2 separate regions of the Homo sapiens genome follow, and region 1 is linked to region 2. The links come from fine-mapping of genetic effects on gene expression. Tissue or cell type: whole blood. Region 2 holds a variant in brackets; the other region holds the start of a gene. All regions are shown on one strand. Distances are from middle to middle.

What was found. PIP is the estimated chance that this variant, and not a neighbour inherited with it, causes the effect.
Region 1: it holds the start of ADAM19, and the variant in region 2 is fine-mapped to the expression of ADAM19 in whole blood (INTERVAL, PIP 0.95).

Annotation. Positions count from the first base shown.
Region 1 is chr5:157,573,233-157,578,380 of GRCh38, forward strand. ADAM19 (ADAM metallopeptidase domain 19) reads right to left here and starts at 2,543. Exons shown (of 23, transcript NM_033274.5): 1 at 2,371-2,543. The coding sequence starts at 2,464. LOC124901121 (a long non-coding RNA gene) reads left to right here and starts at 1,747. Exons shown (of 2, transcript XR_007059018.1): 1 at 1,747-2,138; 2 at 3,048-3,378. RefSeq lists enhancers at 1,239-1,768, 2,005-2,084, 3,942-4,557, 4,558-5,148 and a silencer at 2,255-2,694.
Region 2 is chr5:157,491,999-157,497,146 of GRCh38, forward strand. It overlaps ADAM19 (ADAM metallopeptidase domain 19), which reads right to left. Exons shown (of 23, transcript NM_033274.5): 14 at 4,896-5,091; 15 at 2,689-2,797; 16 at 975-1,179. Among named protein-coding and RNA genes, the nearest start is that of NIPAL4, 34 kb to the left of the region's middle. RefSeq lists an enhancer at 4,497-4,998. The variant G/A (reference allele first, on the strand shown) is at 2,645.

The DNA of each region.
Region 1 (5,148 bases), 81 kb after region 2:
AAAACTTGGAAATAAGGCAAGAGCAAGCAAGATGTCTTCTCAATGTTGTATCAGAGCATTGTTTAACAGACTCACCCATGGATTACTGCATTATCTAGGGGAATGTACCATTGACTTTTTATTTACCATTGATTAAAAGCTACACTCTGTGAAGTTATATAATCTATATATATCTATAGAATTCTGTCTGACAGAGATGTAAGTGATTTCAGCATAGTAAAAAGATAACCTGGCCAGGCACAATGGCTCACGCCTGTAATCCTAGCACTTTAGGAGGCCGAGGCGGGCGGATCACCTGAGGTCAGGAATTTGAGACTAGCCTGGCCAACATGGTGAAACCCCGTCTCTACTAAAAATACAAAAACTAGCCGGGTGTGGTGGCACATGCCAATAAGCCCAGCTACTCAGGAGGCTGAGGCAGGAGAATAGCTTGAACCCAGGAAGCAGAGACTGCAGTGAGCCCAGATCGTGCCACTGCATGCCAGCCTGGGCAACAGATAGAGACTCTGAAAAAAAAAAAAAGAAAGAAAAGAAGGAATGAAGGAAGGAAATTAAAAAAGAAAGATAACCAAGAATTATGGTTTGCTTCATGGGGCATCCACCATTTCTGCATCTGCCCTGGGCCACATGATTTCAACATTCTTTCTCCAATGCTTGTATCACCCCTTTCTAATGCTCCCTGAATCAGCTTTACTCTCCTGTTTGCTACCTCATTAATGAGTTGAATAAATCTTGGCCACATTTGTATGAGTCGTGTTTTTAACTTTTGAAAACTTTGTATAGAGTCATTAAAATCATGTTTTACAGAGAATTTGATGATGTGGAAAACGCTCATGGTGTGAAGTGAAAAACGCAAGACACGAAACTGTACTTATGGGTATGGTTCCAATTTTATCAATATATATCCATAGGAACACACAAAGAATGTGGAGGGGAAAAAAAACAAAATATCAACAGCAACTGTGGATTTGGGGGTTGCAGATCATTTTCTTTTACACTTTTCGTTATTTCCCAGATATTCTACAGCAAGTGTTCTCCAAGGACTCAAAACTCAGAGAAGGCGCCTGTGCTAGGAGCAGTAACTAGCTTTCCTTGTCTTTCTTCATGCTTTTCTCCTGCACTAAGCACTGACACAGGCCTGGTGCTACCCTAGAACCTCCTCTGTGCCTCAGTTTCCCCTTCGGAACAACAGCTCAAAGGGCGGTTCCTTTGAGCCCTTTGGGAGGACCGCCCGACCTCGGCCCCTGGAAGTTCCGAACTGTCGGAAGAGCTCTCAGCCTCTGGGTTTGAGGCGGCCCGGGGGTCCAGCCAGCCCACCCTCGCTCCGCCGGTGCTCGCTCTATTTGAAAACGCTGACTGTTGGTCCCCCAAGCAGCAGTCTGGAGTCAGCCCAGCCCGTCTGCAGCGGTGGAGCCAGGGCTAAGCCTTCTCCGGTCATAATGAGAGAACCCGGGCACCGCCCCCCGGGACCAAGCCTTCCGCGAAATCTGCTTATAGCCCCCGAGGGATGGAGCCGGGGAGGGGATTGGTGTCTGGGAAACTAGTCCTGAGAAACACGGACATCACCCGGCATCTTAGCTGGAAACATCGAGTCAGACCCCTTCGCTTCACAGAAGGGGAAACTGAGGACCAAAGAAGGCGGCCGTCGGGTTGGCGTGGAAAGAGAGCCCTGGTTTCCAGTGCCACCGCGGACCTCAACCCGTGGCGTGGCCTTGGGCAAGTCCTTTCCCTTTTGTGGGCCTCGGTTTCCCCATCTGTGAAATGGGTGCGTTTGACTTGGCCTTCAGTAGGGCTCCTGCCAGCTCGGGGATCCGAAGTGTGTGGCTGCAGATACCCAGCGAGCCATCCCCTAGCCAAGGCTACCACAGTCTGCCGCGGGCATTTTATGTCCTACCCCACCAGTGTGGCAGGCACCGAGCCTGGTCCCAGGAAGCCGCTCCCAGGCCACACGGGCAGGGCGCTCGGGATGCTCGGCGTTGGCGAGTGCAGCGGGCGGTAGAGAGAAAGACAGAGAGAGAGGCGGAGCGGACACGAGGGACCGTGAGAAAACGGAGGAGGATAAGCCCCGAGAACGGCGGAAAGAGAAGCCAAAAGCAGAAAAACAGAGGAAGGAGAAGGCGAGAAGGGAAGGCTAGCCAGTGAGCGGACCGGCTGTTTTCTGGCTGCGCCGGGTTTCCCCGACCTCTGCCACCTCCCAGGGCGCAGAACGTGGGAACAAAGCCCGGGCTCCCAGGCTGGGGACGGCGGGGGCGCAGGCCCCGCGGAGTTGCGGGAGGCGCAGGGGTCGCGGTCCCAGCGCTCCGGACCCGCAAGGCTACTCCCAGGTCTCCGGGCCACCCAGCCTCCATCCCCCCGCGCCTGGCCACTTACTTGTCCATCCAGGCTCCCGCGCCGCCCGCGGCCGGAGGGGCTGCAGGGCAAACGCCAGCAAGCAGAGCCGGGCGGCGCCTGCGCCCCCTGGCATGGTGGCGGCGGCCCTTAGCGCTCGGCGCTCACACGCCCTCAGCCATACCTGCCCACTGCCCGGCGGTGGAGGCGCGTCTGGAACCCCCCGGCTCGCCCCGCGCCTCCCCACCCGGCTCCCAGCCCTCTGCCGAGACGCTCCGCCTCCAGCCCCGCGGGCCTCCGCCAGGGGATGGAGGAGGGGAGGCTCCAGCCCGGAGGGGGCTGGAGGGAGGGGCCGGGGAGGAGCTGGCGAGACTCGGGGGAGCGGGGCTGGCTCAGGTGAGGGAGACCGCGGGGAAGGGAGAATCCGAGCCCCCCAGGAGGAGGGATTTGTGGTGGACGCGGCCTGTAGAGGGTCGGGGACTCGGGCTTCTAGGAGTTAAACTGGACCCCTCTCCGCACAGCGGCCCGTTTACTGTCCCGCACTGTGCCAGACGCCTTGGGTGACACTCAGAGGTGATTCACCCAGCGCCGTCCCCCGGGGGCCGCCACTCTCGGAGACAGGCTCAGAAAGAGTTAACCCAACCGCCAGGCACAAAGAACTAAGTGCTATATGGACTTCTTTTTTTTTTTTTTTTTTTTTTTTTTTTTTTTTTTTTAAGCAGGACACAAATCCAGGAGCCATTCCTTCTGCCTGGGAGGAGGGAGTGATGAAGACCAGAGGAATCCCAGAGGAGAAGCCATCTGAGATCGGGAGGAGGAGAAATGGAACATCAGGCGGAGGAAACAGCCCAGACAATCGCACTGGGACGTGAAAACCCTTGGGCTGCATGCGGGGAGAAAACCAGAATTGGGGATGGTTAGGGTTTTGGAGGGAAACACAGGGACATGTGACCAAAAATAATAATAACTACTGTTACTTATTGAGGACTTTCTATGTACTAGAATAAGAAAATCATGATAGCTAAGACTGATAAAACGCTAAGTGTCAAACGCTGTCTTCAGCACTTTACACATATTCACTTATTTAATTAATCGGAGAAAATAACTTTTATGAGCCAGGGACTCTGCATACATTATCTCTTTTCATTAGCCCAGTAATCCCATGGGGTAGGTACTAGTACTATCCCTGTTTTAGAAATGAGGAAATCAAACCTGAGAGGCTAAACCACTTGCCCAAGATTACACAGCTAATGTCAGTGCCTAGATTCAAACCCACATCCGTATAACTCCAGAGCCTGATGCAACACACCTTATTTTCCAGGTGGAGAAACTGATAATGAGAGAGAAATGACTTGCCTAAGATCCCTCAGCAAGTTTTAGCAAAGCCTCGTTGTAGAATCCCAGCCTCAAACCTCGTCCATCTGTTCCTTTTTCTGAGCCTCTTTAGTCAAACCCAGGTTGACTAGAGAAGTGCTAAGTGTTGGAGAGGGCGAGGCACTCCTGAAGATGATGGGTAGGTAGGTCTATCAAACCCTACTCATGGGCACCCATGAGGGAAATCAAATAAGTGGTTCTGGCCATTAATGTCGTTTGGGACTCCGTTAGTCTCCAGCTGCTGTAAAATTCGTATCTTTCTGTGAACCCGAAATATCTGAGATAGGTCTCAGTCAATTTAGAAGGTTAATTTTGCCAAGCTTAAGAACGTGCTCATGACACAGCCTCAGGAGGTCCCAACATGTGCCCAGGGTGGTGGGGGTGTAGCCTCCTTTTATATATTTTGGGGAGACATGAGACATCAATCAATATGTGTAGGATGTACATTGCTTCCGGTCCGGTAAGGCAAGACAACTCCAAGCTGCAGAAAGGGTGGTGCTTCCAGGTTATAAGTAGATAAGAAACAGAAGAGGTTACATTCTTTTGAGTCCTTGATCAACCTTCCACTGAATACACAATTTAGTCTAGCTCAGTGAATCTACATTTTTACATAAACAATAGGGCAGAAGAAGCAATCAGATATGCATTTGTTTCCGGTGAGCCTCAGAGGGATGGCTTTAAATTCTGTCTGTCCTTTGTCCACAAGGAATTTCCTTGTGTGAAAATTGTGAGGAAGGTATGTAGCTGTTTCTCTTTGTAGCTATCTTATTTAAGAATAGGATGGTGGCCTGGCATTGTGGCTTAGGCCTGTAATCCCAGCACTTTGGGAGGCCAAGGCGGGCAGATCACCTGAGGTCAGGAATTCGAGACCAGTCTGACCAATGTGGCGAAACCCTGTCTCTACTAAAAATACAAAAAAAATTAGCCAGGCGTGGTGGCACACCTGTAATCCCAGCTACTCAGGAGGCTGAGGCAGGAGATCGCTTAAACCTCGGAAGGGGAGGTTGCAGTGAGCCAAGATCACGCCACTGCACTCCAGCCTGGGCGACAGAGTGAGACTCTATTTCAAAAAAAAAAAAAAAAAGAAGAAAAGAATAAAATGGGGGACAGGTTTGCCTGACATTGTTCCCAGCTTGACTTTTTCCTTGGCTTAGTGATTTGGGAGTCCTAAGATTTATTTTCCTTTCACACTTCTCGCGTGCAGAATATATCCACCCCATCCCAGCAGCCCAAATGTCTTCACTCATTCCAGCATTAATTCCAAGTCTGAAGTGTCATCTAAATTTCATCTGTATTAGATATGGGTGAGACTTGAAGTTTGTTTCATCCTGAGGCAAAATTCCTCTCAGCTTCCAAATACAATGTGGTGGGAAAGGCATAGGATAGACGTGCTGATTCCAAAAGAGAGATACTGAAAAGAACAAGGTGACAGTCCCCAAAAGTGCA
Region 2 (5,148 bases):
TGAGGACCCATGGCCCGGCCTGGTGGCTCACGCCTGTAATCCCAGCACTTTGGGAGGCTGAGGTGGGCGGATCACCAGAGGTCAGGAGTTCAAGACCAGCCTGGCCAACATGGTGAAACTCCATCTCTACGAAAAATACAAAAATTAGCTGGGCCTGGTGGCCTGTGTCTGTAATCCCAGCTACTCGGGAAGCTGAGGCAGGAGAATTGCTTGAGCCTGGGAGACAGAGGTTGCAGTGAGCCGAGATTGTACCACTGCATTCCAGCCTGGGTGACAGAGCAAGACTCCATCTTAAAAGAAAAAAAGTATGAGGGCCCAAATAGGCAGCACACTTCAGGTTACTATCAAAGTGAAAAATGGAAAACAGCCCACAACGCTAAGGACAGGACAACAGCCAACTAAATTCTGCTATTACTTTTGTGATTAGGGAGAAAACGACAAATATATTGTTAAAGTATCATATTTAACAATACAATATTATTTATGTGTTATCACATTAAAGGACTATTATGTTGATTATGTTAATTACTTGTCATTAATATGTATCAATTTTAACATTATATTTAAAAATAATGATGGTGACAGTACTCTGTGCCAGGTGCTATGCTAAATGCTTCATGTTTTCCATAGTTTCATTATCAGAATCGACTCTGGAGGATAGAGTCTGTGCTATTATTTTGCTCAGGCTTCCCTAACTCCTAGTCCATTTTTAATTCCTATGATAATTAGCGATGAGGATGAAAGTGGCACTAGCTAGGCCACCTAAGTGCTTTACTGGGATGATTTTCTTTAATCCTTCCGACAGTTCTCTGGGGTGGGTGCCTGCTGTCACTATACACGCTTCATGAAGGGAGCCACCAAGGCTCAGAGGTTGGCGAGGTGGCATCTGAGCCCAGGCATCCTTCCCTCAGACCTCACTTCTCAATCACTCTGCTCTGCAGCTGGCTCCTAGGTGAGCAGGGGAGGGGACTCACATGGTTGTAGCCACACTTGGTTCCAGTCATCACCAGCCCTGGGTCCAGCATGTCACCCTCCTCCTCAGGACCTCGGTAGACGTGGGTGCCCCGGCACTGGATCTGCCTCCCATTCATGATGATAGTGGTGTCAATGGGCACCGCGTTGGACTCCAGGGGCCGGGCCTCAGAGCTCTGACACTGGATCTTCCCACACTTCGCATCTCTGGGCACAAGAGACAGAGAGGGAAGGAAGCGGAATCAGAGGCAGAGGAAGAGCTGGGGCACCAGAGAGCTTCAGTCTTTCTTGATCAAGACAGCAGGCTTGCGTGGGGTGGGGCAAAGGTTTAGGGCAGTCATGTGCTTTGGAACCCACCAGGAGAGATTCCATGTGGACTGACACCAAGGGAAGAGAACAGGCTCCTTGACCCTGAGCAAATCTAGACCAGAGAACTGGCCTCGAAAAGTCCTTAACTCCAAGAATAGCCACCTGAGCTGAGCAATCTTTCCCTTTTTGCCCCTTATACCGCTGTCCACCCAGGAGTTCCAGCTAGAAATCTGGGGTCATCTCCAACTCCCCATTCTCCCTCACTCCTGGGCTCAAGCCATTTTCAAACCCTATCAATCTTCCCTCCTTAATTATCTATCTTATTATCTATCTACCTTAATTCACACTGCCCCACCCCCCTTACCTGGTCTGCAGAAGATTGATTTCCCTGCCTCCAGTCTGCCTCATAGGAGTCTAATTTTCACACTGCTCTCAAGCTAAAATCTAAACTCCCCTAGCCATGCATTTGAGGCTTTTCATGATCTGGTCCATGCTAAACTATCCAGGCTAATTTCTCAGCAGACCTTCTCCTTTGCACCCCAACATTATACTTTAACTGTATCAAACTGTTCTCAGTTCTTTCAACCACCAGTTTTTCTCTATTCATCTCTCTTCCTGGATTACTCTCCTATGCACCAGCACCACCTTCCACCCTGTTCACCGAGGTAACTGCTCCAGATCTCAGTGTAGGTATAACTTCCTTTGGGAAACCACTCTGACACACTAAGATGGGTTGGATGGCTCTCTCCACATTGCCATTGTCATACTATATTGTTAATTAGAAGTTCCATGCACTCAGCACAATATCTTGCACATGGTAAATCTTCAATAGATAGTAGATAGACAGTAAATCTTCAATAGATAGTAGATGGATAGATGGACGGACAGATGGATGGATGGATGGATGGATGAGTGGGTGAGTGGGTGGTGGAGGATGGATAGATGGATGGATCAGTGGGTGAGTGGGTGGTAGATGGATGGATAGATGGATGGATGGATGGATGGATGGATGGGTAGACAGATGAGTGGATGGTTGGTTGGAATGAATGATGAATAAATGAATGAATGAGTGAATTAATGAATGAGGAGCTATTCAAATTAGGGCATGATTAGAATTTGGCAGAAATGACCCAAAAGGGCTGATTCCCTGCCCTACTGTAAGATGGTCCCCAAAGGAAGCCCGATCAGCTTTCTAGGAAGCACTGCCACCCACACCCTCCTCTGACTTCCTCAGAGCTGAAAAGTGCATTGTCAAACAGGGGGCCGAGAATAGATGACTGACTTCAACTGATTGACGTAAAGGTGCAGCTCTGGGGCCAGTCACACTGCTGAGTTGGGCAACAGTGAGGACAGAGCAGAAACT[G/A]CTTGTTCATCCTCATTTCATGAGGCCTGCCCTTTGGTCATCACCTCATGTTGCACTTCCTGTGTTCACCATTCATGTCCTTTCCACAGTTTCCAAAGGTGTCTCCTGCCACATTCACCTTCTCGAAGCAGAGGTCAGGGGCAGGTCGGGCTCCTGGGTGGGCAAGCAACATCTATCAGTATACTCATCTGTCAGAAGCCCCCAAGGGCAAAGGTATCTTTGGTAAAGTCATGAAGGTAAGAATATTTTCTGGGAGGGAATACTCAGCCTCTTCTTCCTGTTCCCTCCAGGTTACTCCATCCCCATATTCTCAACAAGATCTACTCAGAGAATAATGTTTTATATAAATCCTTTTTTTTTTCTTTCAGATGGATTCTCGCTCTGTCACCCAAGCTGTAATACAGTGGCACAATCACGGCTCATTGCATCCTCCGCCTCTTGGGTTCAAGCAATTCTCTACCTCAGCCTCCCGAGTAGCTGGGATGACAAGCACCCACCACCATGACTGGCTAATTTTTGTATTTATTTATTTATTTTTTTTGTAGAAATGGGGTTTCACCATCTTGGCCAGGCTGGTCTTGAAGTCCTGACCTCATGATCCCCCCGCCTCGGCCTCCCAAAGTGCTGGGATTACAGGCGTGAGCCACCACACCTGGCCTGTTTTATGTAAATTCTTCCTACCTTATTGAGGATTTATATTTGTGTGTGGGGAGGGTTGCATGCTAAGCCTGCTCTCTAATGAAGAAGCCATGTTCCGATTCAAGATTTTAAAAAATAGGTCATACATGCATAATATTTTAAAGATATAAGTATGTCTTGGAAAATTTTTCTTGTAGTCATCCAGTTCCTACTTCTCTACATCCTGGAGGAATAGCACTTATTAACAGTATATTTTCTAAAGATACTTAAATCTCTAATTTCTGTATCTCCTAGGTATAATTCTGTGTGTATCTTCTAGAGATAATCTATCTAATAAAGAATGGAAGCATATTCTTTTTTTATTTTTTTTGAGACAGAGTCTTGCTCTGTCACCCAGGCTGGAATGCAGTGGCACAATCTCAGCTCACTGCAACCTCTGCCTCCCAGTTTCAAGAGATTCTCCTGTCTTAGCCTCTCGAGTAGCTGGAATTACAGGCGTCCACCACCACGCCTGGCTAATTTTTGTATTTTTAGCAGTTACAGGGTTTCACCATGTTGGCCAGGCTGGTCTTGAACTCCTGACCTCAGGTGATCCACCTGCCTTGGCCTCCCAAAGTACTGGGATTACAGGCGTGAGCCACTGTGCCCAGTCTTTTTTTTTTTTTTTTTTTTTTTTTTTGAGATGGTACATCCCTCTGTCGCTTGGGCTGGAGTCCTAGAGTGGAGTGGCTCACTGCAGCCTCAAACTCCTGGGCTCAAGCCATCCCCCCACCTCAGCCTCCTGAGTAGCTAGGATTACAGGTGCAAGCCACCATATCAGCCACCTGAGTAGCTAGGATTACAGGTGCAAGCCACCAAATCTGGCTTGAAAGCATATTTTATTTGCTGTTCTACACCTTGCATTTTTCACTTAATTTTTTGTGGAAGATGATTTTATTCAGTAAATATAGGGCTGCCTCCTTATTTAGCCATAAAGCATTGCATTATATGAATGTACCAGAATTAATTTAATTGGTCCCTACTGAAGGACACATAGGTTGTTGTTGCTATGGCTAACAATGGTGCAGTAAACATCATAGTAAATATATCCTCACATACATGTGCAAGTGTTAGCTGCATTTCTAAGTATATCTCCAAATTGCTTTCCATAGTGGTTATATCTACCTGTTTCTTCACACCCTCCACAACACTATATCATTATTATTGTTGTTATATTATTATTATCTTAACTTTCAGTCTTTGCAATCTGATATATGAAAAATCTCACCTCATCATAATTATACTTTGCTTTCCCTTAATATGACTGAGATTAAACGTCTTTTCATAGCTTAAGGGCCATTTGCATTTGCTTCTCTGTCTCCATCCTCTGCTCATTTTTCTTTTGGATTACTCTTATTCAATTGTCCACTCTGAGAAATAAAAGCATCAAGGGACTGGGAAGGAACACTGTCCTCTGGTTCTCCCTGAACATCTACCCTGAGTCAAGGGGATGAAAGAGGTAGTATCTAGAGGTGCCATTTGAAGCCAAGATTCCAAACTACCCTGAGGGCCAGGGGAGGCTGGCTGGGAAGTGGTGGGCTGGGGAGAGCCGTGCTCCCCAGGAGAGCCTTACCGGGTCCCCACAGCTGCTGGCACTGCTCCTGGTAGGTGAGGCACATGCCGTTGTAGCAGTAGGCCTGGCCGCCCTCACAGGGGGTACCATCCATCTGGTAGAAGTTGGTAGGGCAGTGGGGAGACTTGCCCGTACAGAACTCCGGGAGGTCACACTGCCTGGCCTGCTCGCGGCACAGGGTCCCAGGAGCCAACAGCTGAGCCAAGGAATGAGAGGAAAACACAGTCAATCTCCTCCCCACCCTCAACCCTGT